3 linked regions of the Homo sapiens genome follow. The protein of the gene in region 3 binds, or shares a complex with, the protein of the main gene of each other region. Each region holds a gene or a part of one and is shown on either strand. Other genes may lie near its edges. A codon is read from its position in the direction of its gene.

Evidence for each region. Proteins that work in one complex are often made in the same cells at the same time.
Region 1: the proteins of RBBP4 (region 3) and LIN9 are in contact, whole or in part, in a crystal structure (PDB 7N40), measured with the Homo sapiens proteins. Residues at the interface, in NP_005601.1 of Homo sapiens: Ala11, Glu14, Arg15, Val16, Ile17, Asn18, Glu19, Glu20, Tyr21, Lys22, Ile23, Trp24, Lys25, Lys26, Asn27, Pro29, Phe30, Leu31, Tyr32, Asp33, Thr37, Ala39, Leu40, Glu41, Trp42, Pro43, Glu75 (codon at 3,834), Pro87 (codon at 3,798), Asn88 (codon at 3,795), Asp89 (codon at 3,792); in NP_001353174.1 of Homo sapiens: Phe107, Arg108, Asn111, Leu112, Lys114, Leu115, Lys117, Ala118, Lys120, Trp121, Ile123, Tyr124, Glu125, Trp126, Phe127, Tyr128, Leu135, Phe136, Asp139, Asn140, Asp141, Phe142, Cys143, Leu146, Arg156, Lys157, Leu158, Thr159, Arg160, Val161.
Region 2: the proteins of RBBP4 (region 3) and MECOM are in contact, whole or in part, in a crystal structure (PDB 6BW3), measured with the Homo sapiens proteins. Residues at the interface, in NP_005601.1 of Homo sapiens: Ala39, Leu40, Glu41, Trp42, Pro43, Leu45, His71 (codon at 3,846), Thr72 (codon at 3,843), Ser73 (codon at 3,840), Asp74 (codon at 3,837), Glu75 (codon at 3,834), Glu126, Asn128, Arg129, Glu179, Tyr181, Asp198, Val229, Glu231, Asp248, Glu275, Asn277, Phe321, Glu395, Asn397; in NP_001353395.1 of Homo sapiens: Met1, Arg2, Lys4, Gly5, Arg6, Ala7, Arg8, Lys9, Leu10.

The regions. Positions count from the first base shown.
Region 1 is NC_000001.11:226,230,657-226,236,164, reverse strand, and holds the end of LIN9 (protein lin-9 homolog), read left to right. Parts: intron 1-2,641; coding exon 2,642-2,821; intron 2,822-2,971; coding exon 2,972-3,069; intron 3,070-3,558; coding exon 3,559-3,664; 3' UTR 3,665-5,008; downstream 5,009-5,508. UniProt on the Homo sapiens protein: Acts as a tumor suppressor. Inhibits DNA synthesis. Its ability to inhibit oncogenic transformation is mediated through its association with RB1. Plays a role in the expression of genes required for the G1/S transition.
Region 2 is NC_000003.12:169,086,713-169,093,712, reverse strand, and holds part of MECOM (histone-lysine N-methyltransferase MECOM), read left to right. Parts: intron 1-610; coding exon 611-755; intron 756-3,476; coding exon 3,477-3,713; intron 3,714-4,529; coding exon 4,530-4,713; intron 4,714-7,000.
Region 3 is NC_000001.11:32,654,195-32,661,318, reverse strand, and holds part of RBBP4 (histone-binding protein RBBP4), read right to left. Parts: intron 3,893-7,124; coding exon 3,747-3,892; intron 1-3,746. UniProt on the Homo sapiens protein: Core histone-binding subunit that may target chromatin assembly factors, chromatin remodeling factors and histone deacetylases to their histone substrates in a manner that is regulated by nucleosomal DNA.

The DNA.
Region 1 (5,508 bases), about 190 Mb from region 3:
AAAGGATACAGTTATTCATTGAAGCATTATTGGTAATTAAAAAATATTAGAAATAAACATAAATGCCCACACATAGGGAACTGACTATTTATGGTACATCCACACAATTGAATACTATGCTGCTGTAAGAGAGGAAGTTCTCTATTTACTGACACAGAGTGATTTCCAGGATATGTTATTAGATGCAAAAAGCAAATACGAAAATACACATACATATTCCAAAGTATAACCTTTGGAGTAGGAAATAAGTGGAAATACAATGTATATGTATCAGCTTAATTTTTCAAAAGGAAGCAGAAAGGATACATTAGAAACTAATTTGGGAATGGGGTAGGAGTTGGTGAGCAAGAAGGAATGACATTTTTCTGAGTGTTTGTTTCCCCAACAAATACAAGTAAATGCAAACAGAAATAAATGAACCTAACTATATTTCAAAGGAGTGACATAAACTTACTGAAGGGGATAAAAACTGATTCAGATAGCTTGAACATAGCATAGGTTGAGCATCCCAAGTCTGAAATGCTCCAAAGTCCAAAATTTTTTGAGTGCCAAAGTGAAACTCAAAGGAAATGCTCCCTGGAGCAGTTTGGATTTTGGAGTTTTGTATTTGGGATTCTCAACCGGTAAGTATAATGCAAATATTCTAAAATTTTAAAAAATCCTAAATCCAAAACACTTCTGGTCCCAAGCATTTTGGATAAGGGATACTCAACTTATATTTTGACTGTATACCTTTAGTCTGAACCAAAATTTAAATAAACATTGAACTCTAGTTAGTAGAATTTTTTCTCTTGGTGGCATGCATAGCAGTCCTGAAACTCTTTTTTTTTTTTTTTTTTTTTGAGACGGATTTTCGCTCTTGTCCACCAGGCTGGAGTACAGGGGCGCAATCTCGGTTCACTGCAACCTCTGCCTCCGGGGTTCAAGCGATTCTCCTGCCTCAGCCTCCCCAGTAGCTATGATTACAGGCATGTACCACCATGCCCAGCTAATTTTTATATTTTTAGTAGAGACATGTTGGCCAGGCTGGTCTTGAACTCCTGACCTCAGGTGATCCACCCACCTCGGCCTCCCAAAGTACTGGGATTACAGGCATGAGCCACCACACCCAGCAGCAGTTCTGAAACTCTTACTGTGTACTCTAGGACTGAGCAAAGAAGCAAATAAGTATATTGAACCTGGGAGGCAGAGGTTGCAGTGAGCTGAGATCGCACCACTGCACTCCAGCCTGGGCAACAGAGTGAGACTGTCTCAAAAAAAAAAAAAAAAAATTTAGGATAACGCGAGCCAGGTTTCTCACTGTTGAAGAAGGCAGTTATGAAGAGGGGGAAGACTAGAGTGAACCCTGTGGCATTAGATGGGAATAGGGGGAATCAGTATGAATTCATGGTTTATTTTATCTTTATGCTATATGTATAAGTGAGTGTATATGTCTGCTGAGAGAGCCAAAAGCAAAGACACCCTAATAGCAAAGAACACACTAGACCCAGATCTTGGTCTCTTATCTCTGTTCTCCAATTTAAAAAAGCAGGACTTCTTGAAAAAGAGACTGATTCCAGACCTGAGGCAGAGAAAGAAGATGAGCCCGGCCCACCTTATTATGCCAAGGAAGTAAAATGTGCCCCCAAATTACGGGGACGTGTCAAAAAGGGCCAGCTTGACAGGGTTCCCACTGGCCAAATCTGGGACAATTTGAGCTTCAGAATAAATAAATATAGTAAGAGATTATAACCCATAGAATAAAAGTTATGTCAGTATGGGTTCATACTGATACTAGTTCATTTTTTAAGGGAAACTACTTTGTAGTAAAATGCCAACTAATAAATATAGAAGCAGTGTTAAGAGTGAGAAAAACACCATTTTGCAACCATCATAGTAATAATTGATATAGACAAGAATCATCAACAGATGCTAAAATTGGTAGGTAAAAGTTTGATGACAAATAGGATGTTTACATAGCCTCAAAGTATCTCTTCACAACTACTTAGTACTTACAAAAAGGAAATCCTTTACTGTAGGGAAATCTGGCAGACACTTAACTTACCAATTGATCAAAGAGAACATCACCAGTAATGGGACAGGTCAACATCACGTGCCTTCTAATAAAGATGCCAGAGAACTCAGCACCACATTTGTAGTATTTCTGCCCAAAAATGCATAACTTCAGTCTAATCATAAGGAAACAAACAAACCCACATTGGGGGATATTACACAAAATAATTGGCTCGTACTCTTCAAAAATACCAAGGAAATACAAACTGGAGTGATTAGAGGTAATGAGGCACAGTGTTTGCAACTTATTCTTAAATTAGTAACGGGAAGAATTATACATTCACAGAGATCAAATGGCAGATCAAATGTAGTAAAACATAAACAGTAAATCTGAGTAAATGTTATCAAGAGTTCTTTGTTTTATTCTTTTAACTTTTTTTAGAAGTTTGAAATTATATCAAAATTAAAAATTACAAAAAATAGAAAATCAGAAACTGTTAAAGGAAAAAAACTTCTAAGGTAAGAGTACCACTTTAGTTTTAAATGCTAGTTTTATAAAAATTAAAATCTGAAAAGAGGGCACAAACACATACAGAAATAATCATGGCTTCTCGAACATGCGTCTCATGCTTCAATCATCTGTATTCAGCTTGCTCCAGACCAGGGGCTCCAGCCTGCAGATCAGCCAACAGATATGAGACGCAGGTGTGAGGAAGAAGCACAGGAAATTGTTCGGCATGCAAATTCCTCAACAGGACAGCCCTGCGTTGAAAATGAAAATCTGACAGACTTAATTTCCAGGCTTACAGCTATTTTGTTACAAATTAAGGTAAATCTTAGAGAAAATATTTTCTTAATTTGACACAAAGCAACCCACGCTAATTTGTTGCTAAGAAATTAATTCATTGATTATATCAGGTATTTTATGACTATATTTGAGCTATAATGCAATTAAATTTTGAAATTTTTTTCCCTTTAGTGTCTAGCAGAAGGAGGAGACCTGAATTCCTTTGAATTCAAATCACTTACAGACTCATTAAATGATATCAAGAGTACAATAGACGCTTCTAATATCAGGTAATTCGTTAGGTATACTCTAATCATTTTAATGTGAAGTTCATAGTAATTTTCAGTCCAGGTTTTAAGAATTATGCATATTTGTGAAGTACTCATATATTATTATCCGTTAAATATATTTGTAAGAGCTTTTCACTTATATCCAGCCTATGGACAGAATAGAAATTTCACATGGATTTTGTATATAAAGAAATCAGGACATATATTTAGGTTTGGGGTCAGCATGGAGGTTGAGCTTAGAGGTAGAGCTTCCCCAGTCAGTGAGAGACTCATCTTCTCCTTCCAGCCCCCCGTGGCTCCTTTGCTTCTTTAGAGCATATTTGTTCAACTACTACTGAAGTAGAATTATGGCTAATATATTAGAGGAGATTTATTCCTTCCCTAAGATTTATCATAGCTGTTTCCTAACTAAAATTCAGGTCTTCTTTTAAAAATTTTTTTCTTAATTTTTTGAAATAAAGTAGTTAACCATGTTTCTTCTTTCTTTAGTTGCTTTCAGAATAATGTAGAAATCCATGTTGCACATATTCAGAGTGGCCTGAGCCAGATGGGAAACTTACATGCCTTTGCAGCAAATAACACCAACAGAGACTGAGTAAAGATTTCATTATTCCAACTGCACGGGACATTGTTTTTGAGAAGTTCTTTTCCTTTATATAGGCTTCCAACACCAAATAACCTAACTGCTGGAAAACAAGGGAAATTTAAATCTCCAAATAAGGCATTTTAATAGACTGTACTGCTTCTTAAACCAGCATTGCTGACCAGCATTATATTTATTTTTCTTTTATTATTCAGATGCAGTAGCATTGCTTATGTTACATATGTTTATATTCACAAATATTTTTAAACTGAAATATCTGAACATAATATAATTTCGTGGAAGAATACATTGACCATTTTTTTTAATGTGCATGAATTCACCGCAACACATGCAGACAACTGCTGCAATGGAGAGTATGAAGAAACCTGGTCTTTTTATTCATGTCGGTGGCAGTGTGGAAATTCCATCCAGAAAATTACAACTCCACTTGATTTAGTTGATCACCATCTCAGTCTTCAAAAGATAACATCATGAGGTGTGGGAAGTCCTAGTTTTAAGGAAACCACTGAAATATAGATGGGAAATGTGGACTTTACAAGTATATGTTATATATACTTGCAATGTGACATGGTTCTGTAGATCATTTTATAATAATAAATATTTTAATTTATCATAACATATAAAAGAAACCTTTGTTGTTTGTTGAAAGAAAATGAAGGAACAGGGGGAAAAAAGGTGCAAAATGCTAAATTTCTAAAAATGGATTTGGCATGTCTTCCCATCAGTTCAGGTCAAAAGTGCATTGTTGTGAGATTTATTAAAAAAAAAATGATAACACACTATTTTCATATTTTTTTGTTTATTTGCACAACTTTTAAACCAGATTACTGGTTAAAATCCAACAGTACACAATTTATAAAGTAAAAAGATTTTATAAGGAAAACAAATATAATAACCAGTGCTGTGAAATGCAGAAGAAAGGCTTGTTTTGGTTGTTTTTCTTTTTTAGGAAAACGCTGCCTAAAATGTTAATCTTGTAAAAAGTATGTATTTGGAATTTTCTTCGTTTTAATAGAATATTATAAACTCAAAATATAAATTTTTTTCAAATTTGGAGTTTAAGATATAGCTGTAGAGGTGGTTTTAATTCCTTTAGATGTCTCATAAAATGAGACTTTTTATATGTTAATGTATAATAAAACTGAAACAAGATTATTTTCCATTTGAAATTTTTGTATAGTTTAAAAAGGCTTCCGTATTCTTTGTTGGTATTGTGCCACTGCAGAACTTTAGTGCAGAGTTTATATTTAGCTAAACTGTTATGTTAATTAAGAAATGCATAAATCTTCTATTCTTAATATTTGTAATTCTAAATAAATTGATCTATGAAAATTATTATTTTCTATATTTTCATTTAATTCAAGTCAATATGCATTCCTTCTGTTTAAAAAGTTTTGAAGAATTGTAATTTCCATTAAGTTATATTTTTAGGGGAAACAGTACAGATTACCGAGTCTCTCTGAAGTACCATACCATCCAATGGTATGGATTTTATTTATTACCATACCATACCATCCAGTGATACGGATTTTATTTATTACCATACCATCCAGTGGTATGGTATTAAGCAGGTAAGTTATTTGGCCTGGTATAGACCTAGTGAAAGGTTGATTTTAATATATTCTGCCTAGAATTGGGTATTTTGTGCATTTTTTCTTTTACATTTCTTTTTTTTTTTCTCTGTCGCCCAGGCTGGAGTGCAGTGATGCAATCTCAGCTCACCACAACCTCCAGGTCTTGGGTTCAAGGGATTCTTCCACCTCAGCCTCCTGAGTAGCTGGGATTACAGGCACGCGCCACCACGCCTGGCTAATTTTTGTATTTTTAGTAGAAAC
Region 2 (7,000 bases), on a different chromosome or scaffold from region 3:
CTTGCAGTGCATAGGCAAGGAAGGGGAAGATCATCCTGTAATCAGCATATCTAATATTGTCCTTTTAATACTGCACCAACCCCTGGACTGGAGTGTTCTGAGTCAACTCACAGCTTCGCCCAGCAAACCAGGATGCAGAATTTTCAGTGTGCCTTTAAACTGTATTTTGTTATATGCTTTAGCATAGTAGCCAAAAAATAAATAAATAAATAAAAAGGCATGTTGACTGCAACCAGGACTTCATATAGAGTGTCTCTTGGCAGAATCTATTTAAAACTTGTTCATAATTTGTCTCACTCTAAATTCTCATTATGTGAATACAAATATTCTCATGTCACAATAGAGGTAAGGAAAAGCTAGTGAGAGAAGCACCTTCTTTGCGAGACTGTACTTCATGATTTCAGTGGTTCAATATATTCCCAAAGGACCGTCATGGGCATGTGTATTATGGTAAACTGGGGAGACTTTGACTTTCTAAAGTTATTATTATTAATATTCATAGGGCATGTTTTAAGAAACAGCACTGATCAAATTCATAAGGAGTGAGTTTCCAAATAAGTTGCTAGATAAACAATAATCTTTGTCATAAAAGGCTTTCTGCTCCACACAGGTACAGCAACATCGTCGCCTCATTCTGAACTGGAAAGTACAGGTGCGATTCTGGATGACAAAGAAGATGCTTACTTCACAGAAATTCGAAATTTCATTGGGAACAGCAACCATGGCAGCCAATCTCCCAGGAATGTGGAGGAGAGGTAAAGCTGTCTTTTACTTTTTAAACTCTGTGACGACTGAAATGAACATGTTTTAAAATATACTTGCTATGCTCACTTTTGTGGCACTACTATTACTTCAGTCACCAAAGACTGGTATATATTTAGTACATATTAAATACCACATTAAATGCTTCCAAGCATTTTACATGTGTTAATTAATTTAATTTCATCATAACCCTATGAGATAGCCACTATAATTTTAGCAGTGAAGGAATGGAGACATTGAAGCTTAAACCATTGTGTCAGAGGTCACATAAGTAATCAATGGGATTCAACCTGAGCTCTCTGGTTCCAGAGCCCATAATTTTACCAGGATTTAGCTATCTGATAGCTGAATAGAATCTGTTATCAAAATTTCAGAAGTAGAAGAGAAAGCCGTCACAGGGATTCAGTTGAATCACTGATCAATAGTGGCTACTATTATACATCATAAATTATATATATTACAGGTAATATATGATTCTATATACCTGTATTATACATAAATACATATATGTATATTCTGTATATATGTAATATACATATTATAGTACATATGTATGTATGCATTTATATATGAAATACCCATGGAGTTTCCCCCAAATATATTTTACATAGAAGCTTTTATAGTCTTCTTAAGATTCTATTGCTACTTTATGTCCTCTTAAGTGACTACTCATTTAATTCTGGTCTGTTTGTTTCAGTGGGTATGAACATCCTTGTTTTTACTGCCCTGATGCACTGGCTCCCTTTTATCATCACCAACATTAAGCATGAATAGCTTAATTCATTTAAAAAAGCTTTTAATGCTGTTAATGATAATACTTAACAGTTACCCAGCACTTCACATTGCATATGAAGTTAATGAAACACTATTTCACCAAAACTACTGGATTTAATTTTTCTTATCTGTAAGCTATAATTAAATATCTATTGTTGAGAAGTAGACTTTTCTGAACACGACTATATAGTGACCTATTAAATTCAGATGCTACATTGTAAATTTCAAAATAACATGAAATTAGTTAAAAGTTCCATTATTTTTCATCATACAAGTATTATTGGATTAGTGTCCTCTGTTTTTGATGTTATCAAAAGTCAAAATTAATTATTTTATGTAATTTTTTCAAGGCAAACATCAAATAAACATTTTTTACTAAAATAACAAAAAAAATGACCACTTCTGTTTTTCAACTTGTATAAAAGTGTATCAAAGAAAAACAAGAAAAAAGACCCTTCCAGTCTCTGAGAAGTCTGATAACTACACCAGTGTGCAGTTGGATGTACCTTTCCCTTTACTTGCCCATTTGTGTGTGTGTGTGCGTGTCTGTCTGTCTGTTTGTGAAAGGGAGAGAGGAAGCAGATGATCAGAAGGACAAAGTAGCAAGAACAAGCAAGAAACAGTGACGATCTTATACTTTGATAATGATATTTACTTGATGCAAATAAGAACTGTTGAACAAAACACACCATTTGGGTTCTGAGATGCCTATTCAAATTTTCTAGCCTTTAATTGGCGATTTGTGAGCCTGTATAGTTGCAACATCTGGCTTCAGCATGTCTAAACAGCACAGAAATAAGAAGGTTGAGTCATCTAAGTTTTTCCCCTGAACTCCTACCAGGCTACTTTTGATGAATAATTTATTCTCTGTAAATTGCCACATTTGAAAACTTAATTAACAAATAGATTTTCTTAATTATGTTGGCTTTTGTTACTTTTGATTTTCATCCATGCACTCTTTTTGTTCTTTTACTTTTTCTTTCTTTTTTTTAAATAAAAATTTTAATCCACTCATGCAAGCAAGTTGGCAGTGTGTTTGGAAACTAATTTATGTCTGTGCAAAAGATGTTTTCACCATTCTTTGATAAAAGAGGTTAAGCGATTGTTTTTATTAAAAGCTTAATAATGATATGACTTTTTCTGGTCAAATGGATTTTTACTATGTGTGTTTGTCACATCCAAGATTGTTTTATTTATTTTTTAATCCTGGGAAATCTGAATATTAAATTATACTCATTTTTGTTATGTGGGAAAGTGATGGGGGTACATTGTAATACCTGAGCTTTTTCCACCCTGGCGTTTTCCTGAGAAACAAGGAACTATTTCACATTCAGACTGTAAAAAATAATTTGAAAATAGTACAAATAAGTGAGCTGTCAATTACTTCCAAATATGGGTAGAGTGGTTAGGTGGAATGTACCACAAATGTCATCTAGTATCAGTAAATACCAGTTGTTTCTTGGTAACTACTTTAACATTGTCTTTGGACTTTTAGAGTCACTTTAGGCATGTGTATTGTAGCTACGGCCCATGAGTGATATGAATTTTCCAGAAATCTATTATTTTAAATGGTGGGTACTTACATGGCAATTAGGTAAATTGTGCTGAGAACATACTTATGTGCCTTTTTATATGATATATATAGCAATATCAATTATCAAGCAAAGTCTGATAAGAAATGGGAGACCAAGATTGTTTTTCGGGTTCTGCCAGAGGCTTCATTTATAATCTGAACAATCATACAATTATTTTTTTCTTTATCTTCCCATTTGTGAAGTCACATTATTTTTTCATGGTTGACGTAGAGCATAAACAATAAAACATTTCCGATGTTAAGTGTTGAAAATCTAAACTGTTGTTGGGAAGACATAATAAAGGAACAAATTACAATTTTAAAAATGAAACCAACAATTGGACTTTTTTTTTAATGCTTTTGAAAGAATGAATGGCAGTCATTTTAAAGATGAAAAGGCTTTGGTGACCAGTCAAAATTCAGACTTGCTGGATGATGAAGAAGTTGAAGATGAGGTGTTGTTAGATGAGGAGGATGAAGACAATGATATTACTGGAAAAACAGGAAAGGAACCAGTGACAAGTAATTTACATGAAGGAAACCCTGAGGATGACTATGAAGAAACCAGTGCCCTGGAGATGAGTTGCAAGACATCCCCAGTGAGGTGAGTACCTTGGGTGACTTTAGAAACTAAGCTAGAGTAGATCCATGTACGGTTGCAATTCCTCCTGTGATAAGCAATTTGTGAGTTATAAATCACAAAAATTAAACTTGAATTAGTAAGGGATACATGGTGGATCAGATTTAAATAGATGAAAATAAGGTGGCTATCAACATAATCCACAAGCATATAAATACATCAGGTTTGGTGCAACTCTGATTAACCTGAGGTGGGAAAGATAAAATGAAAATTACATAAGTACACAATCATTTATTGTTAGACTCTACCTATAAAACTCAAAGAAAAATAGAGATTTTGACGTTATCTAATTATACAATAATCTGGCATGGTCATCAGTTAAGTATAATTGAGATAAACTTCACTTCAGTAGATATATATGTGATCTATATAGATGATAACTTTTTAAATGAAAAGAAATAACCAAACAGTTAAATTGATGGGACTATTATATTTTCATGATGGATGTTGACTAAATATTGTCATAATTAGCTTTACTTTAAATGGAAATAATGAATATATGAATTCTGTCTCTGCCTATTACTGACTAATGTGTCACTGACTTTAACTCTTTATCTCAAATATATGCTTGGCTTTAGTTACTAAAAATCTTAACAGAAATATATTTTTAAGACATGATGTTTGTAAGTATTTATAAAAACCCAATAATTGATGCATGCTACTTTACCTTGCAGATACAATATGAAGTTTGTCAGTTGTATAGATAGATTCAAATGAAAGTGATTTGATTAGATAACAAATGAAAAGAAAATTTCTGTGTTTTTCGTTGGTTCATTTTAGGTATAAAGAGGAAGAATATAAAAGTGGACTTTCTGCTCTAGATCATATAAGGCACTTCACAGATAGCCTCAAAATGAGGAAAATGGAAGATAATCAATATTCTGAAGCTGAGCTGTCTTCTTTTAGTACTTCCCATGTGCCAGAGGAACTTAAGCAGCCGTTACACAGAAAGTCCAAATCGCAGGTACAGATTTTCCCATAGTACAGCATCATGGTTACATTATGCATGAAACGTACATTTCCTTTGATTACCAAAAAGCAAATATTCTATCTTTGAAATATTTTAGAATCCAAATGGGGTCAGATGCCTTTCTAAAAATGTTCATATCTTTACTGTATTTATGACCAAATCCAAAATAGTTAAGCAAGAAAGCAATTAATTTAGCTGCATTCTGTATAGAAATTTTATGACAAGCCCCATCCTACACTTATCTTTCCTTGACTTTGCAATTCTCTTACTTTTGTACAGTTAGTTCATCATGTTTGTTTACAAATATTTATGTATTACCTCAGAGTCATTTTCCGTGTCTATACTTTTGTCAATGTAATTATATTTTAAGATTTTTCTGAAAAGTGAATTCTATTTTTTGTCCCCTTCTATGTCTAGTAAATTGTTAGGTGTAGTTAATTAGCAAGTCATCTCATGTTGTAATTTAATAGTAAAATGAGGATCAGAAAGGAAGTGAGTTGCCAAAGGTCTACACCAACTTACTGGCAGATTTGGAAATAAAACCTGTCAATTTAAATTCAACAAATGAATGAGTGAATGAATGGTACTCAAATTTATTAGGCTCTACAACATTGTATCAGCACTATGGTAACTAAAAATAAATCTATTTAAGGGTCCATAAATAGCAATTAAAAGAGCCTCAGTGTTTTTGTTACAAAATAAAGGAAGTCGGTACTTTTTTGTTTGACATCCACACTCAACCGGATTGTTCATTCAGGTCAATTAAAAATAAAGAAACTTCCTATTACCATATTTATTGGGCACTGTGGTCTAATTGCCTGATCCATTAGTTCATTTTGTATGTGGCCTGACCTGCAATGTGACCATATTAGTTTGTACATTTGGAAATGATTTTCTATTTGGGTAAGATGTCTGGGTTTGTCTTAACAGCAAATGTAATAATATCCCAAGGAAGTTGGGAAAAACATTGTGTCAATGGGATAATACAAATCATTAAATAATATTCAATTTAGTAAAAAGTTCTGAGATATTATGTATGGTAATAGGTAAAATAAATGTTCTTTCTCAACTGAAGTTAAAGCAGCCACCATCTACAGAGGCTCCTAGAGCCTACCTCCATGAACTTAAGAACATCACTTAAAGACTATAGGTACCATTTCTTCATTGTAAAAGGGGTAAGTGGATTTTTATTCAATGGGGATAAAAATGAAGTTTCCAGTTTTTAACATTAAAGGTAAACTAGCTAGAGTAGACATTTCATTTTTACTTAGAGACATCCATAAGGGGTGGCTAGTATTTTTTTTTAACCCTTGATTTCCCATTCTTCCATCCTTGTTGATTAGAGATAACTTGAGTATCAAGGTTTTTGGTTTTTTGTTACTTGTTTCTTTGTTTTTGAGACAGGGTCTCACTCAGCTGCTAAGACTGGAGTGCAGTGGTGCAATCACGGCTCACTATAGCCTCGACTTGCTGGGCTCAAGTGATCCTCCCACCTCAGGCATCTGGATAACCGGGACTATTGACACTCACCACTATGCCAGGCTAATTTTTCAATTTTGTGTAGAGATGGGGTTTCACTATGTTGCCCAGGCTGGTCTCAAATTCCTGAGCTCAAGCAATCCTCCCACCTCAGCCTCCCAAATTACTGGGATTTGTATAGGTGTGACCCATTGCACCTGGCCATGGTTTTTTCTTTTTAAATTTCTTTTAATTAGTCCACCAAAAATGCTTCTTATTTATTGTAAGATATAATACCTAAACACTCCAGAAACTGCCAGAAGTGACAGAAAGCAAAAGGGCCTGAAAACCTACAGATAAGGGATATAATTATAATACATTTTAGTACCAGCATTTTGACATAAAGTCCCAACCCAGCTGGACTGTTACTGTTATAAGAAACACTAGCATTTTGCAATCCTAAGTCATATTTTTCTTGTTACTTGATCATGTTATATAGATTAGTTTGAAAATGGTCAGGCCCTTTTGCAAATTCACTTTATTTCATAATATCATTCATTCGTTCATTTATTAACTACCAGCTATATGCTGGGCACTGATCCTTATATATGAAAATGTTTATTTCCTTTGATTACCAAAAGGCAGATATGCTGTTTTGCCATTTTCTAGAATCTAAAGGCTCAGATGCTTTAGTCAAAGCATTCATATATTTATTCTGTAATTTTTATAGTCTGTAATTTTTATAGTGATTGAATTGAAAATAGTTGACCAGTACAATAGTAGCTGCATTTTGCATGTGCTCTCCCTCAAGAAACTCTATCCG
Region 3 (7,124 bases):
CAAAAAAAAAAAAAAAGGAACTAAAAATAGAACTACCATTCAACCCAGCAATCCCATTACCGGGAATATACCCAAAAGAAAAGAAATTGTTCTACAAAAAAGACACGTGCACTTGTATGTTCACTGTAGCATTATTCACAATACCAAAGATACGGAAATCAACCCAAGTGTCCATCAATGGTTGACTGAATAAAAAAATTTTTTTGGCTGAGTATAGTGGCTCATGCCTATAAGCCCAGAACTTTGGGAAGCCAAAGTGGGTGAATTGCAAGAGCCCAGGAGTTTTCAGACCAGCCTGGGCAACGTGGTGAGACCTACTCTCTACAAAAAATACAATGGAAATCAGCTGGGCATGGTGGCGCATGCCTGCAATCCCAGCTACTCAGGACGCTGAGGCAGGAGGACTGCTTGAGCCCAGGAGGCAGAGGTTGCAGTAAGCGGGGATTGTGTGACTGCACTCCAGCCTGGGTGACAAAGCAAGACTCCGCCTCAAAATAACAACAAAAACTCAATCATTTAGGAAAAAAAGGCTGGATTCTGATTCCATACCAAATACCAGAATGACAAAAGTTTTAATGGCCCAAACATAAAAGTCCCAGAAGACAACAATAGATGAACACATACTTTATGAAATCATTGAATGGGAGGTCTGAGGTGGGAAGATTGAGGCCAGAGTTCCAGATCAGCCTGAGCAACATAGTGACATGCCATCTCTTAAAAAAAAAAAAAATTAAGTTATCTGGGTGTGGTGGTGGGCGCCTGTAATCCCAGCTACTTGGGAGGCTGAATCAGGAGAATAGCTTGAATCTGGGAGACGGAGGTTGCAGTGAGCAGAGATTGCGCCACTGCACTACAGCCTGGGCGACAGAGCCAGACTCCGACTCAAAAAAAATAAATAAATAAAATAAAAATCCAGGTATGGTGGTGTATGTCTGTAGCCAGAGCTACTTGGGAGGCATAGGTGGGAGGATCGTTTGAGCCCATAAGGAGGCTGCAGTCAGCTAAGATCATGCCAGTGCACTCCAGTCTGGGTGACAGAGCAAGGCTCCATTAAAAAAGCAACTTACAGCTTCTAACCAATAACAGGACTTAAGATTTTAAGTTAAACAAGAAAATGATCTGCACCTATTTATTGGGTGGAGAAGGTATAATTTACCTTATATGAAGAGGTAACTCAAAAGGAAATACGGGCAAAAAACATAAATAAACAGGAGATGTAAGCTCAACATCACAAATAAAAAAAGCAATGTAAACTTGAGAATGAACTCTACTGAGTCCAGTGTTGGCAAAGGCATGGAGAAACAGACATAAATACATACGCTGTTGTGGGACTTCAAATCTTTTTCTGGAGTGCAACTTAGCAGTATCAATTATATTAAAAAACGGTCCTGCCCTTTGATACAACATTCTACTTAGAAAGTATTTCTATAGCAAAACTATGCTTTTGAAGTCAAAAAATTAGAAACCATCTAAATGTCTATCAGTAAGGAATAGTTAATTATGGTCTACTATACAGCCATCAAAAGGAGGCAGGTCTCCATCTACTAACAAAGATACATGCCCCAGATATATTAGGCCATAAAAGCAAATTATGAACCTATATTGCATATTCTATACCTGGCATACAAAATTACTCAACATATTTGTTGAATGAGTGATCCAATACACAGGATAAATCCTTCAGAAAACAATACATCACAATACATCCATTTAAGTGATATCCAGGGGAAAGGTTTTTCTTTTGTTTTGTTTTTGAGACGGAGTTTCCCTTTTTTTTTTTGCCCAGGCTGGAGTGCAATGGTGAGATCTCGGCTCACTGCAATCTCTGCCTCCCGGGTTCAAGTGATGCTCTTGCCTCAGCCTCCTGAGTAGCTGGGATTACAGGTGCGTGCCACTGCACATGGCTAATTTTGTATTTTTAGTAGAGACAGGGTTTCACTATGTTGGCCAGGCTGGTCTTGAACTCCTGACCTCAAGTGATCCACTGGTCTCAGCCTCCCAAAGTGCTGGGATTACAGGAGTGACTCACCGCACCCGGCCAGGGAAAGGTTTATTATATGGGAGAAGGGGTGCGTTTTTTACATTGTGTGTAAAATTACATATATATGTAAAACCACATATATGTGTGTGTATACATTTATATTGTGTGTGTGTAAAATTACATATATTTTATATATATAAAATTTATATGTATATATAAATTATATATATTACACACAATATAAATATATACACATGTAGTTTTACATATATAATTTATATATTTATATATAAATATAATACATTTATATTATCTAAAATTATATATAACTATATTTTACACACAATATATACACGCATGTAGTTTTACATATACATACATATATACGTATGTTTATATATAAATATAACATTTATATTGTGTAAAATTACACATATAATTTTACACACACAATATAAATATATACACACACATATATGTAGTTTTACAATTTATCACACTACCAATCAGAGTATTTGTGCCTCAGTAACAAGAACAAAAGGCAGGAGGATCATTTGAGGTCCGGAGTTCGAGACCAGCCTGACCAACATGATGAAACCCTGTCTCTACTAAAAATACAAAAAATTAGCCAGGCGTGGTGGTGCATGCCTGTAGTCCCAGCTGCTTGGGAGGCTGAGGCAGGAGAATCGCTTGAACCTGGGAGGTGGAGGTTGCAGTGAACTGAGATCGCGCCACTGCACTCCAGCCTGGGCAGCAGAGCGAGACTCCATCTCCAAAAAAAAAAAAAGGAAAGCGTTTAAGCATTTCATGAGCAGTTAAACCCTTAGGTTATGGCCTAAAAACAGGATATAATTAAACAACTCATTGGAACTTAGTTTCTATACACATAGAGAGTGCCATGGTTAAGTCATTTCTACCACTTTAAACCTAGAAAGGGTAATTTAAGTTAGTGTTTCTCAACCTTTTTTTTTTTTTTACTATTGCTCCTCTAAGAACTCTTTTAAGAACTATTCCCTCCCCACCAGTCCCATGAAATTTTAATACCATAGATATCCTATGTCCTCTGTGCATATCTGTGCTTTAAACAATCAACCAGTAAGATTATTTACACCTACTCACATACACAAACCAATTTTCACCTCCTTAGGGGTAGTTATCTCCCGTGTTAAGAATGTATAGCAATATGGATGGGTGCAGTGGCTCACGCCTGTAATTCCAGCACTCTGAGAGGCTGAGGTGGGTGGATCACCTGAGGTCAGGAGTTCAAGACCAGCCTGGCCAACTTGGTGAAACCCTGTCTCCACTAAAAATACAAAAATTAACTAGGCGTGGTGGCGGGCGCCTGTAATCCCAGCTACTCAGGAGGATGAGGCAGAAGAATCGCTTGAACCCGGGAGGCGGAGGTTGCAGTGAGAGAAGATCGTGCCACTACACTCCAACCTAGGCAATAGAGCGAGACTGAGTAAAAAAATAAAAAATCAAGAATGTACAGCAATAATATATATTTTTGCTTCTTTCAATTGCAGAAATCCTCCCCACCAGCACCAGCTGAGAAAAGTTTATTGTGAAGGTACAGAACCAAGGATGTGTTAAGTATTTCTTCTGATACCTAAAACTCTAATATAAATATAAATACCTACCATTGCAAACTCAGGCTTTCCCTCAACCTTAAATATTGTTTCTAAAGTCAGAGTTTACTTTATCAAAGTGCACATAACAGATATGACCCACACATCTTTACTTCTTTCACCTTTAAGATTCCTACCTCCTTTCTCACTGTCGTAGTGTGACGCATCAAACTGAGCATCATCATTAGGGAGCTGCACACTGGCTATAACAAGATGGTTTTGTTCATCCGATGTGTGTGTCCCCAGGACAAGTCGATGAATGCTGAAATCTTTCCCTTCTGGTCTGTAACGGCAATATATAGTCACTGTTCAAATTAGTAACATCAGGAGACGGCGAAGTCAACAATATACATGTATGTCAAAGTCACTAATACAACCAGGTTTTAAGAGAGGGGAAAAAGTCATTAAGGGTCTTTTCTTTCTTTCTTTTTTTATAAATAGAGTCTCACTCTTTCGCCCAGGCTAGAATGGAGTGGTGCGATCTTGGCTCACTGCAACCTCTGGCTCTCGGATTCAAGCGATTCTCATGCCTCAGCCTCCCGAGTAGCTGGGACTACAAGAACCTGCCACCATGCCTGGCTGATTTTCGTATTTTTAGTAGAGACGGGATTTCACCATGTTGGCCAGGCTGGTCTCGAACGCCTGGCCTCAAATTATCCACCCACCTCAGCCTCCCAACGTGCAGAGATTACAGGCAAGAGCCACCGTGCCTGGCCAAGAGCCATATTTTCTACTTAATTACTCTGGAGAAAAAGTAAAACGTTTTATGGAATAAAATGTGAATTAACTACTCACTCACTACCAACAGGTTGGAGGGAAAGCAAACCATTGTTGGGTATGCTAATAATTTTGCTTACTAAAACTTTCATTAAAAAGGAAAGAAGGGGAAAGGGTGCAAAGAAATTGAAAAGAATGAAAAAAGGGAAAGAAGAGTAAATAACATAAACCAATTTTTCAAACATTTACTAACCGCCTATCAATGGACACATCGCTCCAAACGCGATGGAAGTACAAAGACAATTAAGACATGATTCCTGACCTCAAAAAACCTGCAGCTGGGCCAGGCATGGTGGCTCACACCTGTAATCCCAGCACTTTGGGAGGCCGAAGAGGGTGGATTAATTGAGGTCAGGAATTCGAGACCAGCCTGACCAACATGATGAAACCCGGTCTCTACTAAAAATACAAAAATTAGCCGGGTGTGGTGGCGGTGCCTGTAGTCCTAGCTACTCAGGAGGCTGCGACAGGAGAACTGCTTGAACCCAGGAGGCAGAGGTTGCAGTGAGCCAAGACGGTGCCACTGCACTCCAGCCTGGGCGAAAGAGCAAGACTCTGTCTCAAAAAACAAACAAAACAAAAAAAACCGGCGGCTGGCTAATCCCAGCTACTTGGGAGGCTGAGGCACAAGAATCGCTTGAACCCGAAAGGCGGAGGCTGCAGTGAGCAGAGATCGTGTTACTGCACTCCAGCCTGGGTGACAGAGAAAGACTACTTCCTGTCTCAAAAAAGAAAAAAATAAATAAAAGAAAGAAAATTAAACAATTTGCCTAAGATCACACAGCTACTAAGTAACAAGTATGCTGAAGTCCAAATCTGACTTCTGATATGGGAAAGCACAGTGGGAGAGAAGGCCGATTAAAACTGACTATTTAGTGTTCTGAATGCCGTCTTAAGGCATTCTGTACTCCATACTGGGTCAAGGGCATCCACATCATCTGGGAACTTGTTAGAAACGCAAATTCTCACATCTACTCCAGACCCATTGAATCAGAAACTCTAGAAGGTGGGGCACAACTAACTGTTTCACAGTACCTCCAGCTGATTATGATGCATATAAAATTTTGAGAACCCCTGGCCTAGATGGGAAAGATGCTACACAACCAGAATTCATTGGGGTTTATAAATTGACTGCCTATAAAATGGAGAAAGAGAAAATGTCAAACTAAAGCCAATTATGATGAAAAGAAATAGGAACAACAGGAGAGAAAGTTGGGGTAAGGCCTTCACGTAAGGAATAATTCCATTTACAACATGTCAAACTGGGGAAGCCAGTAAGATATACCAGGGAAGACACGGGCAGGCAGAAGAAAAATCAGGAAAAGCTCTGGAGAAGTGAGGTCTAAAGATATCAATAGGAATTCTTCTGCACAGATGTCACAGGCAAAGCTCTGAGAGCTTCTACATTACACTGAAAAGAAATGAAGAGAGATATGAACAGAAAATTGGAATTACCTGTATGTAGAAGGTTAGACAAGAACCAGAAAAAGAATGAAGGAGAGGACAGTGTTACAGAACTACAACCGTGGTTTTTCTTTCTTTTTAAAGGGGGGAAACGGATCTGGGTAAACACCAGAAAAAGAACACACACAAAAGTAAACACTGCATCAGGGCTGCTTGCTTGTAAGTAATCCTCATCTTAAAAAACAAAAACAGGGCCAGGCACGGTGGCTCATGTCTGTAATCCCAGCACTTTGGGAGGTCAAAGTGGGAGGATCACTGGAGCCCAGAAGTTAAAGAACAGTCTGGACAACATAGCAAAAAAATTTTTCAAAAATTAGCCAGGTATGGTAGCGTGTGCCTGTAGCCCCAACTATTCCAGAGGCTGAGGCAGGAGGATTCCTTGGCCCAGGAGGTCAAGGCTGCAGGGAACTCTGATCGTGCCACTGCAACACAGTCTGGGCAACAAAGCAAGATCCTGTCTCAAAAACAATTTTCAGCCAGGTGCACTAGCTCACGCCTGTAATCCCAGCACTTTGGGAGGCCGAAGCGGGTGGATTACCTGAGGTCAGGAGTTCAAGACCAGCCTGGACAACATGGTGAAACCCCATCTCTACTAAAAATACAAAAAATTAGCTGGGCGTGGTGGCGGGTGCCTGTAATCCCAGCTACTTGGGAGGCTGGGGCAGGAGAATCGATTGAACCCAGGAGGCGGAGGTTGCAGTGAGCTCAGATCATGCCACTGCACTCCAGTATGAGTAACAAGAGTGAAACTCCGTCCTCCGTCTCAAAACAACAACAACAACAAAAAACAATTCTCACATTATTTATCTAGATTTGCTAATGCAGAAAACTACTAAGATGACAGTACAGATTTCAGCCTTGGGGAATTAAGTCTTTAATTCTTGCTTTCGAAACCTAGCTAGTCATTCTATTATATTACTTGGGAAGTTTCTGAAAAGTAGGGGTTCTAGAATGTTTAGTAGGTATGGGATGGCCAATATTTGTGATCCACTAGTCCAATAAGCACAATTTAGCATATGACTATAGTAAATGTGGAATCACCATTCCAGTACACTTCTCATTAAGTACTCTGCCACAAGTTCTTTTTCTTTGAGACAGGGTGGCAATCCCTAGCTCAGGCTGGAGTGCAGTAGCAGGATCACAGCTCAATGCAGCCTTGACCTCCCAAGGCTCAGGTGATCCTCCTGCCTCAGCCCCCACTGAGGAGCTGGGACTAACAGGTACGCACCACCATGCCCGGATAATATTTGTAATTTTAGTAGAGACGGGCTTTT